Linked DNA regions of Homo sapiens. The protein of the gene in region 1 interacts with the protein of each later gene in a biochemical or structural test. Each region holds a gene or a part of one and is shown on either strand. Other genes may lie near its edges.

What was found. Proteins that work in one complex are often made in the same cells at the same time.
Region 2: the proteins of YAP1 (region 1) and NHERF2 form a complex in vitro, tested with the Homo sapiens proteins (2 studies listed by IntAct, with this or other methods).
Region 3: the proteins of YAP1 (region 1) and SHANK1 interact in a test that uses a peptide from one of them, tested with the Homo sapiens proteins (2 studies listed by IntAct, with this or other methods).
Region 4: the proteins of YAP1 (region 1) and PTPN14 form a complex in vitro, tested with the Homo sapiens proteins (3 studies listed by BioGRID and IntAct, with this or other methods).

Annotation. Positions count from the first base shown.
Region 1 is NC_000011.10:102,217,370-102,222,597, reverse strand, and holds part of YAP1 (transcriptional coactivator YAP1), read right to left. Parts: intron 1-5,228. UniProt on the Homo sapiens protein: Transcriptional regulator with dual roles as a coactivator and corepressor. Critical downstream regulatory target in the Hippo signaling pathway, crucial for organ size control and tumor suppression by restricting proliferation and promoting apoptosis.
Region 2 is NC_000016.10:2,024,661-2,029,875, reverse strand, and holds the start of NHERF2 (Na(+)/H(+) exchange regulatory cofactor NHE-RF2), read right to left. Parts: upstream 2,975-5,215; 5' UTR 2,871-2,974; coding exon 2,658-2,870; intron 1,701-2,657; exon of another isoform or gene 1,680-1,700; intron 295-1,679; coding exon 94-294; intron 1-93.
Region 3 is NC_000019.10:50,667,629-50,672,196, forward strand, and holds part of SHANK1 (SH3 and multiple ankyrin repeat domains protein 1), read right to left. Parts: intron 4,487-4,568; coding exon 4,390-4,486; intron 1,658-4,389; coding exon 1-1,657. UniProt on the Homo sapiens protein: Seems to be an adapter protein in the postsynaptic density (PSD) of excitatory synapses that interconnects receptors of the postsynaptic membrane including NMDA-type and metabotropic glutamate receptors via complexes with GKAP/PSD-95 and Homer, respectively, and the actin-based cytoskeleton.
Region 4 is NC_000001.11:214,369,929-214,374,496, forward strand, and holds part of PTPN14 (tyrosine-protein phosphatase non-receptor type 14), read right to left. Parts: intron 2,912-4,568; coding exon 2,783-2,911; intron 1-2,782. UniProt on the Homo sapiens protein: Protein tyrosine phosphatase which may play a role in the regulation of lymphangiogenesis, cell-cell adhesion, cell-matrix adhesion, cell migration, cell growth and also regulates TGF-beta gene expression, thereby modulating epithelial-mesenchymal transition.

The sequences.
Region 1 (5,228 bases):
ATTTCTCAGCAGGATTCTCCCTGTAAACCTGAGCAAAGGCTGTAGGTTGCTACTCTGATGGTTGCAGAAGGCCTGCCTTCAAGGGCTTCCAAACCTCCCAGGTTTCAGCCTGTATTTGCCCAGGACCTCAAAAACAGTTCATCTCACTGTGACCCATCCGTAGCACACTCATTACTACTCTGTCCTTTTTCTCTCCTTTATCTGTTCACTGTTTCTTACCCTCCTAAGAATTTTCACTGTGCCTCTCCACCTATCGTAAACATCATCTCTACTAGACCATCAGCTTTCTTTCCCTCTACTTTTTGGGTTTGATTTGAAATACATACAGTTTCTTATCACAAAGGATACTGGCCTGACTCCGTCATCCTTCCACACAGCTTTCTGAGCCAAGTCTGCTCACTGAGGCACGGCCCCACCATCTCCAGCCCTCACCTCCACAATCGCCATGGGGTCCTGAAGTATGGAAAGCTTCTCCTAGCTCTACGCTGCCACTTCTAAACTACAATTCTCCTGCATGCAAATACCACTTATTTTTCTTTAGGTTTATGCCTTCTGGATATACCATCCTTTAAACCAGAGTTTCTTAACCAGCGGACCATGACAGAATTCAGAGAGTCTCTGAACTTCAATGGGGTAAAAAAAAAAAAATTACACATTAACTTTCGCTAAATTTGTCAACATTTTCTCCAATGTAGTATGCACCATTAGTATTCACTGTACCTAACTTTTCACCAATAGAACATATAAATGTTTTCATATCACATTGTAGTTGTTGCAAATATTTTAAAATACCATTTATGATCATTGCTATTTCAATGCTACAGTAGTTACGTTATAAGATGTGCTTCTAGATTTTTTTTTTTTTTAATCTTTTTGAGACAGGGTCTCACTCTGTCACCCAATCTGGAATGCAGTGATGCAATTATAGCTCACTGCAGCCTTGACCTTCTAGGCTCAAGTGATCCTCCTGCCTCAGCCTCATGAGTAGCTGCAGCCACAGAGGCACACCACCATACCCAGCTAATTTTTTGTATTTTTGTAGAGACAGGGTTTTGCCATGTTGCCCAGCTGGTCTCAATCTCCCAGGCTCAGATGATCTACCCTCCTTGGCCGCCCAAAGTGCTGGCATTACAAGCATAGGCCACTGCACCCAGCCTTAGATCTTGTTATTTATACATTAAAAAGAAGCACGTTATATCACAAGTTTCTATTTAATATTTTCTTAACTGTATCAATGAAATTCCTTTTCTTTTCAATCCTGTACTTTAAAAAAAAACAAACACCAATGTCCTGAGAGGGAACCTAGGGACTTGGCCAAATGCCAAAATTGTTTGCCTGTCTTCCCTGCAAGGTAAACTGCTTCTTGTACTCAAATTTACTGATCTCTTCGTTACTCCATCTTATATACGGGAAAATTCTGGAGTCTGGTCAAAGCCTCTTGCCACTCCAAGTATTCTCCATGCCTCTTAACATGCTTCAGTATTAAATGGACAATTCACTTAACCTGACAGCTTCCTGAACCTTCTGGATTCCAGTGACCTTCATCTCCACTCCACTCAAACACCCATTGCACAGCCACTAAGATCCTGTTATTTGAAACCAAACCAACTCTAAAATCTTAAGTCATGTTTTGAGACGATGATCAGTGTTTCTCTTCATTCCAACTGCATTCATCACATTGGAATTATGACCTCCATGCATAAAACCCATATAATAACCCATTGTTGAAATGCCGGGATCGCCTTTACACCGAAATGATACTGACCACTTCATCACTGTATTTCAATCATTAATTCCCTCAGTCATACCCAAGAACTGGCTTAGAAACTTCTCTCCCCAAAATCTTACATGCACTTATTTTACTTTCTCACATTTTTTTCTAACCAGTTCCTGCATAGACTCATGTCCACTCTACCAGCCCTCCAACCTCAGAGACTCCAGACCCATCTCTCCTTACTAGTCTAGTCTATTGGCTGTCTTTTGGTATCTTATTTTTTTTTCTCCTTCCCTACAAGCTTAAATTCATGACTGATCATTCAAAACAGCATAAGCACCTTTTAGATTCCTGATGTACATATAATTTTATCTCAGCCCAGCAAATCCCAACCCCAAAGCAATGCCAAAGTGTATTTGTTCCATTTTCATTCTGAGATTGCTGAGAAATGCTAAGGGAAAAGAAAAAAAAGAAATCACATAACTATCCAGAATGTTATCATTACAAATTAAAGGTCTTTGGTTTTGGATGGACCCTAGTACCACTTATTGGTTTTTTTGTTTTGTTTTGTTCTTGGTCAGTTGTTTTTCACATCCTCATGGTCACTACTCCAAATATGGCATACTATCTCAAGCCCCTATTCAGGGAAGTCCATTTCTTTTCTTTTCTCTTCCTCCAAATTTTTTTGTAGAGACAAGGTCTCACTATATGTCGCCCAGGCTGGTCTTAACACCTGAGCTCAAGCGATTGGCCTCCCAAAGTGTTAGGATTACAGGCGTGAGCCACCATGCCCAGCCAGTGAAGTCCATGTCTATTTCTTTTCCATCTACATTAGAACACTGAGGCCATTGGCTGGGTGTGGTGGCTCACGCCTGTAATCCCAGCACTTTGGGAGGCTGAGGTGGGCGGATCATTTGAGGTCAGGAGTTGGAGACCAGCCTGACCAACATGGTGAAACCCCGTCTCTACTGAAAATATAAAAAAATTAGCCAGGCGTGGTGGCGTATGCCTGTAGTCCCAGCTACTCAGGAAGCTGAGGTTGCAGTGAGCTGAGATTGCGCCACTGCACTCCAGCCTAGGTGACAGAGCGAGACTCTGTCTCAAAACAAAAAACAAAAAACAAAACAAACAAAAAAAACCAGGTCATCAGGTATAATCTTTGATTTTTCTGGCCCCTCTTGCCACCTCTTCCTGCTTGCCTCAAAAGTAACTTCATTTATACTCATCATCTTTTTAACTTTTCTTGCAGTCTTATGGGGATCCCTCTTATTTCTTTTCTATCTTCTACTTTTGACTCCTCCCATGCTCATCTTACAAAGTGAGAAGTGACTTTAAAACAGTGATACTACACTCATTGTAGTCTGTCTGTGGGAGGACACATCCTCTCAATACCATGCCTTTCTTCCGTATTATTTAAGACCTGGTGAAGGCACTACCTTTTTGAAGAAACTCTCCGTGGTGATCCCATCTCGATCTTGAGATTGGATTAGACACAGACATGTCATGTCTTTAACATCCTGAACACAGCACTTATCACAAAATATCGTAATTATTTTTGCTGTACCCCCTAAGGCCAGAGTGAATGAATTACTCTGGAGCATAAAACAACTTAAAATTCCTTGAAGAATTTATTTTGCTCTTAAAATATGAGGATGTATTTAACAATAAACTTTAAAATGAATAAAATTATAGACTCCAGAAAAGGCTGATGCCTAGGGTTCTGTGACAAACATGGGAGTATTGGAGAATATTCTAAAGACTCTCATTTGCTTTTTATCAAAGAAGGTATGCTCCTGTTTGTAGCACAAAACAAATATATAACACTAAACTGTAAGTCATAACTAAAATAACTGAATTGGCTATAATTTTCATATTATTTTTACAACTTTTTATTTTAGCCTTTTAAATAAAATTCCTACTTTTTATTAGGTTAAAACTAGTATCATGTGCAGACTAGACTCTCCATGTTCTTGCTGCTTTGAATTTGGCCACTATGTTTGTTAAAAGCCGTGAAATTTTTACTTTTTACTTCATTTAACAACTGAATTTCTATGTCAGCAGACACTGCAGAACCAACTATGCAGATTTATAAAGAAAGATAACTTAGAGATGTCAGTAAGCAGGGAAATCATTCCAAGTTACCTAAGGAGATATCCGACCCCTTGAAGGGCTATGGAAACACTCTTCTCATTAAACCTATATTTGAGCCATGACTAACAGTAACTAACCTAAGGATTCACCTAAATTAGACTTGAAAGAATCAATGAAAAAAAGACACTTTACTTACTGGTGGCAGGAGTGTATTATTAATCAAATAGGGAAGAATTTGGCATGAAAACAAATATAGTTAGCCTTTCATATCCGTAAGGCAACCAAGTATGGATCGAAATATTCGAGAAGAAAAATGGAAGGCTGTGTCTGTACTTAACATATATAGACTATTTTTCTTGCCATTATTCCCAATACAGAATGACAACACAGTTATAACAGTGTAACAGCTCTTTACATAGCATTTCCATTGTATTATAAGTAATCTAGAAATGATTTAAGGTATACAGGAGGATGTGTGTAGGTTATATGCAAATAGCATGCCATTTTATATAAGGGACTTGCTGGAACCAATCCCCCAAGGGATGACTCTAATGTAACAAGGCCAATGATACAAATAACATATATGCAGATTATGGATAGCATACTAAAGGTATAAATACTCAGCTGAGTTTTGAAACTTTTAGTTACAGGTGATTAGATATTCCAAGTAAATTTTGAAAAGCTTTTTGATATATAACGGATATACAATAAATTATAAAGTGCATAAATTGATGAGTTTTGACATGTGTGTACACCTGTGAAGCTGCCACTACAATCAAGATAATCATCCTCAGCCGGGTGCAGTGGCTCACACCTGTAATCCCAGCACTTTGGGAGGGTGAGGTGGGCAGATCACCTGAGGTTGGGAGTTCGAGACCAGCCTGACCAACATGGAGAAACCCCGTCTCTACTAAAAATACAAAAAATTAGCTGGGTGTGATGGCAGGTGCCTGTAATTCAAGCTACTCGGGAGGACTTGGGAGGCTGGGGCAGGAGAATCGCTTGAACCCGGGAGGCAGAGGTTCTGGTAGCTGAGATTGCGCCATTGCACTCCAACCTGGGCAATAAGAACGAACCTCCATCTCAAAAAAAAAAGATAATCATCCTCAAAATTTTCTCCCACTACTTCTCACCTCCCCTACTTCAACCTTCAGAAGCTAATCATCTGCTTTTTGTCATTGTAGATTATTCGGTATTTTCTAGAATTTTCTAAAATAAAATCATACAGCATGTACTTTTTCACTTAGTGTGATAATCTTGGGATTCATTCATGTTATATCCACAGTTCATTCCTTTTTATTGCTAACTAGTATTCCACTGTAGGAATATATTACATTTGTTTATTCATCTGTTGATAGGCATTTGGGTTATTTCTACATTTTGGCTTTGTGTAGAAACATGCTTTCGTTTCTCTTGGATACTC
Region 2 (5,215 bases), on another chromosome or scaffold:
TCTGGAGGTGACCAAAGGCAAAGATCGTCGTCAAAAGCTGAGAGAGCCTCTGGGAGAGGCTAGGGTGGTCCCTGTGGGCCAAGCCCGCCATACCTTCTTGCCAGCTTCGGAGCTGTGGCTGCCGGTGTGTGCCCAGTCTGGCTTCGGCTCCCAGGGGTCGTGGGCGGGTGGGAGCCCTCGCTGGGCCATCTCCTCGGTACAGGTCAGCTGCCGCCGGCGGAGCTCCTCATCTGTCTCCTGGTCCACCACCAGCAGCCGAGTCTGCCCCTCCACAGCCTTGATCCTTTGCACCACCTGGGGCGAATGGGCGATAGGAGCGGGTCAGTGGCCCACATTCCGGGCAGCACATGGGCAGTGGCACCACTCTGGGCTGGCCCAGGCGTGCGGACAGGCGGCTGGTCTGCATGGGCGGGTGGCTGCACCAAGAGGCCTGCCGGCCCCGCCCCCCACCCCCGGACTCCAGCGGCTCCCTCCCTCTGCACTCAGGCTCCGGACACTGAGGCCCAGGCTGTGAGGGCTTCAGGGTGCTCCCAGAGCCTTGCCCTTAGCCCAGGGTCTTCTCCAGGCGGGGCTGGGAAGGGGCTGCAGGATAGGGCCGCTGGGTAAGTCCTGTCTGGAAGTGACAAAAATGGTGCACAGTGGACCTTCAGGTTTTCAGTCTGCCTGTCCCTGTGCGCGCATGCATCCATCTGTTTCAAAGTCTGTGTCTCCGTCCAGGTTTGAAGGAGAGGTGTGTCTCCCTGGGCCCCAGTTTGAGTGTGTCTGTGCCCATTCCCGTCATTCTCTGCCGTGCAGTGTGGGAGTCTAAACTCCTGACCCTAGGCCTTATATCTACCTCCAGGCCATGGCCATGGGCCCATTCCCTCTGGATCTGCAGAGAGGGGAAGGGCTGGGCTCCTGGCTCGGGCACCCACACACAGCCAGGGAAGCAGGATTCAGGTGCAGCCGGCGAGGGGGAGAGGCAGGTGCACCTGTGGACAGCTGTGGCTTGGTGGCCGTCGGTGTGTGCGTGCAGGTGCCTGTGAAGTGTCTGGACCACGCGGGGGGCCAGCGCACACCCGCGGAGAGAAAGCAGTGCCCACTGGGAAGTGGGCAGGAAGAGGGGCAGCCCTACTCCCACCTGCGGCCTGGGGGAGGGTGGACAAGGCTCCCCACCAGCTGCCGGGCTCAGCAGGGGTGGTGAACAGATAGGAGGGACTGAGCCAGGCCCATCTTCCCCCAGCCCTCCTCTCTCCCCATGACCCAGAGTGAGACAAGAGGAACCCAGTGCCCAGCTGCTTCTTGACTATGTGTCCCAGACAAGTTACCCTCAATCTCTGGCATCAGTTTCCTCAACTGTCAAATGGGGCAGTAACTGCCCCTCTTGCCCTCCTGGGGCAGTGGGGAGAGTCCACCATGGTCTGTGTGTCCAGTCCTCAGAGACCAGCCCCACAGGGCCTTGGAAAAGCAGGTGTTCCCAGGGCGAGGGTGGCAGTGACTATCCAACAGCAGCCTGGCCCCAGCCCTGGCAGCCCTACCCTCAATCCCTCAGGTCCAGGCCCCTGGCCTGATCCCCACATTCTTCAGCAAACAACCTTACACAGCAGACACTCTGGGTGGAAGGCATGGGGCCGGCCGACAGAGTGACAGACAAGGCACCAGGTAAACAGGAGACCAGCTCCAGGTCCAGCTGAACCAACCTGCTAATCTCTAGGTTCCAGGACCAGCCATGTAGACAGGTTATGGATTCATCGGTGCTGTGAGGGACAGGGGACCTGGAGGAAAAGGGGTGTGTGGACGCTGGACCCCAACCAGGGTCTGGAGGGAGTCCCTGGCCTGTGGGAGACAGACACACCTCAGGGGTCAGAACCCACAGAGAAAAGGCTCTGTTCTCCTTAGCCAGGAGGCAGGAGGCTTCGGCCAGTAACCCCAGCCAGGCTAGGCAGCCTCTGAGGAGGAGTAGTGCCTTTGTAGCTAAGGAATGTGGTTGCCAGCAATGACCAACTCAGCCCGGTCCCAGACACACCAGCTGGGACACACTAGAGTACAGACACAAAGACTCACCGGCCTGCAGACAGTGATGAGTACACTAGCCAGGCGTGCACACACACAGAGCCCAGCTCCCATACGCCCAGGAGTCCAGACCTGCACACACACAGGCACACGTGCAGACCTGTATACTCACACACACACTACAGCACACACAGGTGCAGACACACTGATGCCTTTACTGCGACCCCTCCTGGGTACGCACAGGCAGGCGCATGCACACATGGCTGACCCCAAAGGGACCTGCATACACACGCCCAGCTGTGTTCACACGCACACGTGTACACACACACCCAGGCAAAAGCACCCAGGTCTTCACCTTTCCGGAGGGGCTCCAGGCGGCCCAACACCCTCCTTCACGGCACACTGAGGCCAAAACGCGACCAAAGGGCGAGGCCAGCGGCCAGGAGCCGCAGTGCGGGCCCCTCCCTGCCAGGATGCCCCCCCCCACCCCCGTGCAGGACTGAGCTTCCTGCGCCGGGACTCCGAAGGCGCCGGGCCGCTGCCTCCCGACAACGTCCGCGTCCTCCCCGCGGGAGCCCCCTCGGGCCCCCGTGCGACCCCTGCTCGCCCCAGGGGGACGCGCTCGGGGAGGGGGCGGCGGGCCGGGGGCGAGCGCTGGCCCCCACCTGGTGGTGCGTCTCGCCCTCCACGTTGACGCCGTTGACCTCGACCAGGCGGTCCCCAGCGCGCAGCGCGGCGGCCTCGGCGGGGGAACCGGGTTCCACGCGCCGGATGAACTGCCCGCGGCGGCCCTTCTCGCCGTGCAGGTGGAAGCCGTAGCCCTGCTCTCCGCGCACCAAGCGGCACAGGCGCGGCCGCAGCGGCTCCGGCGCGGCCATGGCGCCCGCTGCCCACCGGCCGCCCGCGGGCAGGGGCGCGGGGGAGCTCGGGGGCGGCGGCGGCGCTGGGCACCCGGCGGTGGCTTCAGCGGCGGCTCCTGTTCGGCTCCCGTCGCCTCGGGATCCGGCTCGGGCTCCGGCTCGGGCTGCGGCACCGCCTCCGCGCCCGCCCCTTCCCCGCCCCCGCCGCCCGGCCGCCCCCGCCTCCAGTCCCAGCCGTCCCGGCCAGGCCCCTACCTCCGCGCCCGGCCAGCCCGAGGCGGGGCAGGGGGAGGCGGCAGGGCTAGGGGACCCCTTAACCACCGGGACCTCTCTGTCTCGCCCCTACTCTGGGCAGCCGCCTTGGTGCCAGCGCCTTTGCCTTCTATCCCAGGAACATTTATTGGATACCTACTGTATGCGCAGCATCGAGGCAGGTCTTGAGGTGGGCGACGGGTTGGACAAAGGGTCTCCAGGCCAAGGGACCCCGACAAAGGGGCCAAAGGGTAAGAACAAGGGCCACAGCCCTCCCCACCCTCCCCGGGAAGCCCTTCCGGACCCCCTTGCCTGTCTCCTCTCGGCTGTGTCTCACCTGGATCCCTCCCAGCCAGTGGCTGGGAGACTCCCTGGCCCAGGGCAGAGTCTCAGGAGGGCCCAGGAGGCAAAAAGGGCTTTAAAAGTGACACGCAGCAGCCCCTCCCTGCATCCTGGGGGCCAGTGGCTGGGAGACTCCCTGGCCTACCCACCGTGTTCGGCCTATCTGCACCGCGTCGGTTCCCACGCCCTGCTGCCATTCTTTCCCTTGGCCGGGCCGGCCCCCTCACTTGTGTCCCAGCCCACCCCAGGCCTGGACTGTGACTTTGCAGGGTGACAAAAGGATATGAGTCTCGAGGGTCCCTGCTACCCACCTCCTGACATGGGCTACACTCCACTGAATTATTTGGGCTCTAAGCTCTGGGTGTGCACAGGCGCTGCTCCACAGTGTCCACAGGCAGGCAGCAGGCCTCCCCTCCCCTGCCCACAGCCGTCCACGTCCCTCAGCCTCTACCTGAAGCACGAGTGTCCCTCCTTCCCCAACAGGACAGTCACCACCACAGTGAAATCATTTAGGCCTAAGTGCATTTTACCTGGAACAACCCTAGGGGACCGGCCACTTCACAGACCTGCAAACAGGCCTGGAGAGGGAAAAGACCCACGAAGCCTCCTCAGCTCCATTTGGGCCCAGGGATGTGAGATTCGGAGTCCATGCTATCTTCACCACCCAGCTCTTCCTCTGTCTCCAATATAGGAAGGTAGCTGAGTCCAGGCACAGCCCCAGTCTGCCCTCCTCCCCAGCCCAGCCAGGCCCCCTTGCACATACCTGGTTCCCAGGGGTCAGGCACAGCCAGCCCAGGCAATTCCCCATGTGAGCCGTAGAAGCAGGCTTGGCGCAGTCCTCCTCTCCCTCTCGTCTCTCCGGGGCCCTGGGCTGGGCTCCCCTGCCCCCACCCAAGCACAGGGCTCGCCTCTGGGCAGCCTCCTGGGCCATGGCCCCCTGGGTGCCCATATCCCGGCAGCTGCCCCTAAAAGCCACTTAGGCTGAGGCGCCGCGACTGCTCGCCACCCCAACCCCTGCAATTCCTGGGTAAGGCTGCTTCAGGCTCCCGCCCGGCCGGCCGCTTCCATCTCTCTGTCTGCATGTCCAGAGGCTGCCTGTCTGGCCTGTGGCTGGCCTCCCTGGACACAGCCTGGTGCTGCCACCCTTGGAGTCTGTGAAGATGGCTGTGGGCAGTGTGACCCACCACCACGCACCCCACATACCACACCTGTTTGGGCTTAGGGGGTCATCCCACACCAACCAGGTCCACCCAAAACCTGGCAGGCTGTAGCTTCCTGGCCACACTAGAGTCGAGGGAGGTGGCTGGATGGGAGACTCCAGCAGCCCCAGGTCCCCTGGGTAAGGGGGCTTGCAGACCTTACCCGCCCTGGGTGGGGCAGACGCCTGATCAGCCTTGGGCATACACCATCCTTCCCTGGCCCAGGACTCAGCTGATTCCTACTCCCAGTGACTGAAGATGGGCTGAGGGGCCGGAGCAGTGGCTCACGCCTGTAATCCCAACACTCTGGGAGGCCGAGGTGGGTGGATCACCTGAGGTCAGGAGTTCGAGACCAGCCTGGCCAATGTGGCGAAACCCCGTCTCTACTGAAAATACAAAAAAAATTAGCCAGGCGTGGTGGTGGGCATCTGTAATCCCAGCTACTGGGGAGGTTGAGGCAGGAGAATCGCTTGAACCCAGGAGGCGGAGGTTGCAGTGAGCTGAGATTGCGTCACTGCACTCCAGCCTGGGCAACAGAGCTAGACACCATCTCAAAAACAATAAATAAAT
Region 3 (4,568 bases), on another chromosome or scaffold:
AGGGAACGCCGGGCGGCGGGCGGGCTGGCGGGAAGGGACTTCTCCTGGCTGCCCAGCCCGGCCCTGTACCCCAGCTCCCGGCGCGCAGGGTCCGGCGGGGAGGCCCCCCAGAGACGCAGCACTGGCTCGTGGTGGGCGTGGGGCGAGTGGTGGTGCGGGGTGGGCGGCGGGGCCTCGTAGCGGGGCGATGGGGGCCTGGGAGGCGGCTGGGGGGCCCCGCCGCCCTCCGAGGACTCCTTCAGCGCTCGCTCGCGGGCGGCCAGGGCCAGCCCCAGCGGGGAGGCGGGATCCAGGGCCTTGCCGGTCAGCGGGTGCACCAGGGGTCGCGGGGGCAGGAAGCTGGTGAAGGCGCTGCTGCCCCCGCCACCCCCGTAGGCTCGGCTACCGGCCCCGTAGCCGCCGTAGCCCGCGCCGCTGCCCGCAGACTCCAGTCGGAGGTAGGGCTCGGCGGAGAACATGCCCTCGTCGATGGATTTGGAGTGGCGCAGCCGCGGGCCCGGGGCCGCCCCTGTGCCCAGCCCGCCGTCCCCGCCGTCCTCGTCCCCCGCGTCGGTGGACAGGAACAGCGTGGAGCGCCGGCGCGCCTCATTCTGCCAGCCCCCCTCCCTCCGGGCCGCCCCCACCAGGGCGGCCCCGAACTGGCTCGTGAAGTCCAGCGTGGCCGGGCCGCTGGGCGAGGCGGGGGTGGGCACGGGCGAGGGGGACGGGGGCACGGGTGACATGGCCGGGGCGGGGCTGGGCGAGGAGCCGCCGCCGCCGCCGCCTCCCGTGGGCTCCGGCTGGGTGGGGGGCTCCGCCTCGGTGCTGCTGCCCTGGCTGCTGCGGCCGCTGCTACTGGTGGACGGGGCCTTGATGATGATGGTGGGGATGGGGATGGAGTTCTTCTCCGAGGGCGCGGCCACGGCGGGCGGCGGCTGCGGGGAGGCCGGGGACGTGGGCGACGGCGCGGGCGGGAGGCCGCCGCCCTTCTGGGGCTCGCCTTCCACCTTGGTCTGCTTGACCAGCGGGCCCTTGCGGCCGCGGCCCGAGCGGGCGGGCACGTACATGGCTGCGCTGGCCGCCCGCGGGGGCAGCTGGAAATAGCGTAGAGCCGGGCCCTGGGAGGAGCCGCCGCCCCCGCCCGCGCTGCCGTGGTGCGATGGGGACGGGGCCCCCGGGGTCGGGCTGGGCCCGCCGCCCCTCCAGCCTCGCAGGCTGGGCTGGGGCCCCAGAGCCAGGCGGGGTGGAGGGTCGTCGGGAGAGCCGCCTGTCTCCATCTCGGGAGGATGAGGGGGGTGGGCGTGGTGGTGGTGGGGCTGAGGGGGCGGGGCGTGGTGGTGGTGGTGGTGGGGCGGGTGGTGGTGGGCCGGGGGCAGGGGCCCACTGTGGTACAGGCTCTTCTCGCGGCTCCCCACGCGAGTGTCGGGAGGGGAGGGCCCGTCAAAGGATGCAGGGGAGGAGGCGGGGAGGGGGCCACCAGAGCCAGGGTTGAAGGGCCCTCCCCGAGGGGAGGGGGTGAGGCGCCCTGAGGAGGAGGGGACTGGAGGTGTGCTGTAGGGAGGCTCCGGTGGGGACGTGGTGGGTGGCGGGGGAATGTCCTCCGAACCAGGCACAGACAGGCTGCGGCTGAATTTCATGGCTGGGGGTGCTAGGTAAGGTCTGTCATCTTCTGCCGCACCTGGGGAGATACAGAGGCTCAAGGAGGGGGACCCTGGCGGGGAGGGTCTCCCTGCTCCACTATCCCATAGAACCGCAACAATACTAATGACAAGAATGGCACCCCGTATATGCCAGGAACTTCACGTGGACTCGCCCAGCTCTTCCCTATTTGAGGTAAACCCAAATCTGCTTCATACAGAGGTACAGGTTGTGCACTGCACAACTGCAAACCGCAAGGAAGGTGAGGAAACTGAAATTCAGCAGAACTTCCTCCCCACGCCAGGAGGGGGCGCCATTTTCTAATTCCGTTCAAAGGCTCAGTGAACGGTTTGGGGCCAGCAAAAGTGGCTGGAGCTGGGAAGGGATAGTCCCCTCGTGTTTATGCATAGATGCGTGTTTCTTTTCACGTATATGCGGGAAAGAAATGCAACCAGCACATCAAAGCTGTGATTCTACAGAGAGAACCACTTATGATGAGGCTAAAGTTTAAAAGGGATTGGATCTATAAAAAAAAAAATCAGGTAAACGATGCGAGCCAGGTGGACCCCACACTCAGTGGGAGTGTAAGACTCACACTGGTGGACTTTGAACGCCAGGAGTTGGGGAAAGCTGAATCCAATCAGGGAAAAACAACTCCAGGAGGCGTGCAGGAGTTAAGTCTTTGCTTACTTCACTGCCAAGGCTCGGTCTTTGAACCTCTTCTCACCTCTGACTACTCCCTCTCAACTAGTGACCAGCTTCATTCACTGCCTTTCTGCTGTCGACGCCCACGTTTATGCCTGGGGCCCCATCCTCCGCCCTGAGCTCTGGGCCCCTATATTCAAATACCCACACCCAGCTGGCTGTCTCACGGGCATCTCAGACTCCAAACGCTCCAACCCAAGCTCCTGATCTCCTCACCAACAGACTCCTCCCAGCCCACGGTCCCTCCCCACCACCGCAGCAAACAGCAGCTCTGTCCTTTCAGGTGCTAAGACTGAAAACCTTGCAGCCACTCTTAGCTTTCTTCCTCAAGTCACCCACATCCAATCCACCAGCAAATCCTGTTGTTTCAAAACATATCCGGAATCCAATCCCTTCTCACCCCTCCAGAGTCAACACCCTGGGCCAGCCACTATCATTTCCTATCTGGATAGCAATAGCTGTCACCTCCTCTTTGGTCCCCCGGCTTCCCAGCTCATCCCCTTCAATCTAGTCCCTTCACAGCAGCCAGAGGGTTTCTGTTAAAACCGAAGTCAGCTCATGTCCCTCCTCTGCTTAGAGCCCTGCCATTCACTCACCTCACTCAGGGCAAAGGTTCAAGTCCTCACCATGACTCCCCAGACCCTGCAGGATCGGGACCCTGTCCCCCCACTGCCCTCATGTCCAGTGCTCACTTGGCCCCTGCTACACAGGCCTCCTCCCTGTTCTGTAAACGCACCAGACTCAGCCCGACCTCAGGACCTTTGCAGAGGTAGTTCGCTCTGCCTGGAATGCCTCAACCCCAGGGAGCCTCACGATTCCCCACTTCATCTCTAGGTGTTTTTTTTTCTTTTCTTTTTTTTTGAGACAGAGTCTCGCTCTGTCGCCCAGGCTGGAGTGCAATGGTGCGATCTTTGCTCACTGCAACCTCTGCCTCTCGGGTTCAAGCTATTCTCCTGCCTCAGCCTCCTGAGTAGCTGGGATTACAGGCACATGCCACCACGCTTGGCTAATTTTTGTATTTTTAGTAGAAATGGGGTTTCATCATGTTGGTCAGGCTGGTCTTGAACTCCTGACCTTGTGATCCGCCTGCCTCGGCCTCCCAAAGTGCTGGGATTACACGTGTGAGCCACTGTGCCTGGCCCATCTATAGGTTTTAGCTCAAACCTGCACCCTGCCCCCTACCCAGCACTCCCTATCTCTCTTACCTTACTCCATTATTTTTTTTCACTCTTTTTTTTTTTTTTTTTTTTTGAGACAGAGGGTTGCTCTGTCGCCCAGGCTGGAGTGCAGTGGCACGTTCTCGGCTCACTGCAAGCTCTGCCTTCCGGGTTCACGCCATTCTCCTGCCTCAGCCTCCTGAGTAGCTGGGACTACAGGTGCCCGCCACCACACCCGGCTAATTTTTTGTATTTTTAGTAGAGATGGGATTTTACCATGTTAACCAGGATGGTCTCGATCTCCTGACCTTGTGATCTGCCTGCCTCGGCCTCCCAAAGTGCTGGGATTACAGGCGTGAGCCGCTGCGCCCGGCCCACTCTTTTTTTTGTTTTCCATAGCACGTACAACTGCTAACATACTAGATAATTTTCTTGCTTATTTTCCTTATAATCCATTATCTGTCTTCCCCTGCTATAAGGCAAGCCCATGAGGGCAGGAACCTTTAGTCTGTTTTATTCGCTGACGTATCCCCATTCTAGAACAATTCCTGGCATGTGGGGAGCGCTTGGTAAACACTTGTAAAATGAATGAATGGATGGAATCGGGTATAAGAGAAACAACCAGAAAGCTGTAGCGGGGGCTTTAGCTCACTGCATCCCCATTCTCCAGATGTAGAGCCAGAGGCCCAGAGAAGTCAAGCCACCTGCCCCAGTTCACACAGCTGGGAAGGAGGGGAGCCAGGATTCATGGCCAAGTTCACCCATTTCCAAAGCCTGAACTCTTAACCCAATTTGATGAAACTATGGTCTCTCTGGGAGCACAGAACATTTCCAAGTCTGCTTGCTTTTCCTGAACTGTCACGTTCCTGGCCTCCCCCAGCCCCCACATCTCTTCTTCTGGGTGGCATACCGATAGATTTTTGCCGGAGCATCAACCCAGGTCCTGGAGGCAGGAAAGAAGGACGCTCGTAACTTGGCTGGGCACGGTGGTGGGGATCGAAGCTCGACTTTGGAGCGGCAGTCAGAGGGGGAGAGAGAGAAAAGATAGAGAGAGATCAGTCAGCGCAGAAAGGCTTGTGGCTTCACTAT
Region 4 (4,568 bases), on another chromosome or scaffold:
AATGTTAGAGAGAAGTGCAAGTGCAGTCTAGAAGCAGGAACAAGCTTCGTGCATTCAAGAAACAAAGGTCAGCCGGGCGTGGCGGCTCACGCCTGTAATCGCAGCACTTTGGGAGGCCAAGGCGCGTGGATCACAAGGTCAGGAGATCGAGACCATCCTGGCTAACATGGTGAAACCCCATCTCTACTAAAAATACAAACAATTAGCCAGGCGCGGTGGCGGGTGCCTGTAGTCCCAGCTGCTGGGGAGGCTGAGGCAGGAGAATGGCATAAACCCGGGAGGCGGAGCTTGCAGTGAGCCAAGATCACGCCACTGCACCCCAGCCTGGGCAACAGAGGGGAGATTCCATCTCAAAAAAAAAAAAAAAAGAAAAAAGAAACGAAGGTCTTCGGGGTGGCTGGAGTGTGACATGTGAGGGGCCAGGCGATCAGAGAGGAGACTGGAAAGGCCTCACAGTCCATGGTGGAAAGTTTGGATTTCATCCCATGGGCACGGGAAGTCATTCAAAGGTTTTAAACAAGGCGGGAAGGGGTTCCAGCAATCGCTGTAGGTCACGTTACTCCTTTCGGATGTTCAGCGCACAGCTCTTTCTGTTACAGCACACTGACTACCGATGCTGTCTTTATCTAGTGTCGATTTCACATTTGTTTCAGCCTGACCAATGCGTTTTAGTTCAATCTACAACTAGAACTGAGAACAGCTGCTTACATCACCATTCTTTCTCCCTTGATTTTATAAACTTTTCTGAGAATATGTATTCTCAACCATTTACACAAGGTCTATGTTTCAGCTTTGCACCGTTTTAAAATCTCTGGAGAAGGGGCGGAGTGTGGAGGAGGTGGTAGCTGAGGAGATTCAGGGCAAGGAGTAGGTGGTGAGAGAGAAGGAGCACTGAACACATACAGCTGCAGTGGTGACAGGCTCTGGGAACCCTGATGGCTGTTTACAGGAACATTAGAGTTCCTCTTGTAAAGCCCACTTGTAAAGCAACACATCTTTGCGGAATATGTAAATTACCTTGCCTGGCTTCATTTGGTTTAATTGAGTCTCCTTAAATTGGAAGCATACCTTCCTCTTTTATTTACCAATCCTGTGAAAGCAGATTTACCTCGAATTTACATTTCTGCTGAGTGTCTAAATCAGTTATGGATTTTAAAAGACTATAAGTCCCCAGCTGTCCCACAGATTACTAGATGCTACTTTGTCTTGGCAAGGCTGGCTCCTTGTCACTCCGGTCTCACCTCCAATGCCACTCCCTCAGAGGGTCCTTGGCCACCCCCCTGATCTAAAGTAGACCCCAGTCACTCTCTTTCTTAACCCTTTTTCCATTTTTAAAAATTTTCTCCCTTGAATTTATGCTACTATTAATAAGGTTTTTACTTCCAGCCTTCCAGCAAGTGTGCAACATGATACAGAGCCTGGAGCTCAGGGTTGCACATCGTGAAGCCACCCTTTAGTAGGAGTCCCCTAGCGTGAATGACAGTTTTGCAGCTGAAACCCACACAAAGAGGAGGAGGGATGAGGCAGGAGGACCTGTACTCACCCAGACCCACTCTGGACTATAGTTTTCCATTTCTGCCACGGCACTTACTGCTATCTGCACTGATTTTATCTGTTCACTTTTGAATGTCCCTCCCACTAGGACATAAGCTCTATGGGGACAGGGATGGTGCCTGTCTCGTTTACCGTGTACTCCTGAAGTTAGCACAGATGGTATGCTGTATTTAGGTGAATGAATGCCTTGCAATGGTGTGAGCTGATAAGGTGATAAATCTATTCTAGAAGCTTTAAGGAGGATTCATTCTCTTTGTGGGAAGGTCAAACAGGTCAGCCCAGGGAAGTACAACTGGCTTTAAAGAGCCTGATGTCCCTTTCATTATTTTCTTCTAATGGACTGTGCTGAGAAGCAAATGCTCAACACAGTCAATGAAGGAAAATATGACTTTTTCCTCCCCAATTTTCTTTGTTCCTGACCCCTTTAACATAGCTAGGAAAGGCCACTGCAATACCATGGATATTGGTAAACACACATGAAACTAGTCCCTTGAATGATTTCAAAACATAAATTGGAATTTAATGAAAGAAATAAAAGAAGGTGGTTAAAGAAATTTTGAGAATGTGACAAGAGAAGAAATACAACACTTCTCCCCACAAAGACAGCAAGCTCAACACCGACTGGATTGACTGGCAGTGTAGGCTGGTTTTTTATAACATCACATAGAGTTCTCTAGTTACAGCAGAAAAACTATGTTTGGCTTGGCAAAAGAAGAAAAAGATATTTTTTCTTCCCCCAAAGAACAGAGGACTCTCCAGGAACAACGGCTTCTGGTCTCTTTTCAGCTGATAAGGATGATGGCATGTGGAGCTGGGTGCCTGGAGTTGGGCGTCTATGTCGATTTGCCCAGAGCAGCCTGAGACTCCCAAATTCCAGTGGAAAGATCACTGTTTTCGTTTGGCACAGAAAGTCAGCAGGTTGAACTAAAGTCTGTCATTTTTGGTTTTCTGTTGTTTTATTTTCAGTTTAGTGCATTACAATCCAAGGAAAAGAGTTAAAAGCCAGATGAAAATGGGAGGAGGAAAAGCTACAACAATCAATTATCTCCAGGGGAAAAAATATCTATCTGGAAGTAAGAAAACAGATGTATACCAAAGAGAAAAGCATGTGCAGAGAAACAGCACTGCAGGAAGAAGGATAGGGTAGCAAAGTTGACAGCACAAAGCCCATCTTCTGGCCACCCTTTCCCCTGGGGAAAAAGGATGTGGAGTAGGCCATTCCCCTTACCTCCTCTGCAGTGACCATGGCAATCACATTCACTCCCTGCTCCCACACCATCTGCCAGAAGTCGTGGCACGTGTGTGGCAGGGGCCCCTGGGTGGCTATGTAGTGCCATTCTGCCCCGCCAACCACCACCTAAAAACCAAGAAAAGTATCGGTAAATAAACCCCAAGTCCGGACAACATTACCTGCTGATCACCTGTCCATCTGTATCCACCTTAAAACCTTGGATATATTTTTGGGGCCGAATGAATTAGTTCAATGAACAAAAACCCTGAGACTACAGAGGCTAGTGTAGTGACACATTCTCACATGAAAATACTTTTTGCCACTCAAGCCTATTAAATATTTATCTAATCCTGGTTTTTGAGACTGAGTCTTGCTCTGCTGCTTAGGCGGGAGTACAGTGGCACGATCTTGGCTCACTGCAACCTCCGCCTCCTGGGTTCAAGCAATTCTCCCGTCTCAGAATCCCAAGGAGCTGGGATTACAGGCACTCGCCATCATGCCCGGCTAATTTTTGTATTTTTGTAGAGATGGCGTTTCACCACATTGGCCAGGCTGGTCTTGAACTCCTGACTTCAGGTGATACGCCCATCTCAGCCTCCCAAAGTGCTGGGATTACAGGCCTGAGCCACCAGGCTTGGCCTTTACCTGATCTTTGTTTGCAACTCACAGTATATGCAAACTAGTGCCTATTAAAAACCATACACATACACACATGTATAGATGCATATATATGAACATGTATAACTTAGGATTTACTTGTTACAGAAATAATAGTTACTGCTTACTATGTGCAATGTACTCTAACACTTTCCATTCTTTTCTCTTTTCTAGTCGATTTCATTGAAACACACACACACACACACACACACACACACACACACACACACACACACACCTGGTCATGACCACTAAACTGATTTCACATTCTACCACTGTGTTGTAATCCAGTTTGAAAAGCAGTGCTTCATGGCATCCAATTAAACAATAAAAAAAAAAAAAAAGATCATGAAACAACATCCCTTTTGGAGCACTATCTTTCTCCTGTGGATCTGAGATGAAGTGTATCATAAACCTCTGCTGTCACTGCTGCTCTGTGGTGCCATGCACGGCAGAGATGCTACGAATGCTCTTGTCAACAGCATATATTTTATCAATAGCTTCACCTTGGTAGTACCACAGCATCCAACTGAACTACAGTCATGACATGACTTTGGATAATAAAATTATTACCCCTGCAGCTCAGGGTGATCAGGGGAAGATAATTCTACAGCTATAAATACTAGCTGCTGAGAACCATAAATAAGAAGTTGTACCCAAAGTGTTAAAGGTCATGCTGTCAAGGTGAAATGGTGGCCTTTGGAGGAATTCTTTCTGTTCTCCCTTCCAGGTCTGTGCCTTGATATTGCAAAGTCAGGTCCCTTCTACATCTATACAATGCAGATCTCTGGAGAGTTCAAAAAGTAATGAAGTAATCATTGTTTGAAACTTTTTCCCCTCATTTATTTGATAAAACTGTATGCTAACTTGGTTCAAACAAAAACAATGTAAGTTATTGTCTCATTACACAAGGCATGTTTAGGTCAAAGCTGGCAAGAAAAATCCATTTTCCAAATACTGGTGGGAGATAACATTCATATATTTGCTGGCTAGGAGTTTGGTTTATCCGTGGAATTGTGATTTTAAACATTAGCCTCTCTGGCACCCAACGTATAGGAAACATAAATACTTCCAGAGAATGCTGCTGCTGCCTGGGGCCTTTCAGTATATTCCAAGTATTGACAGA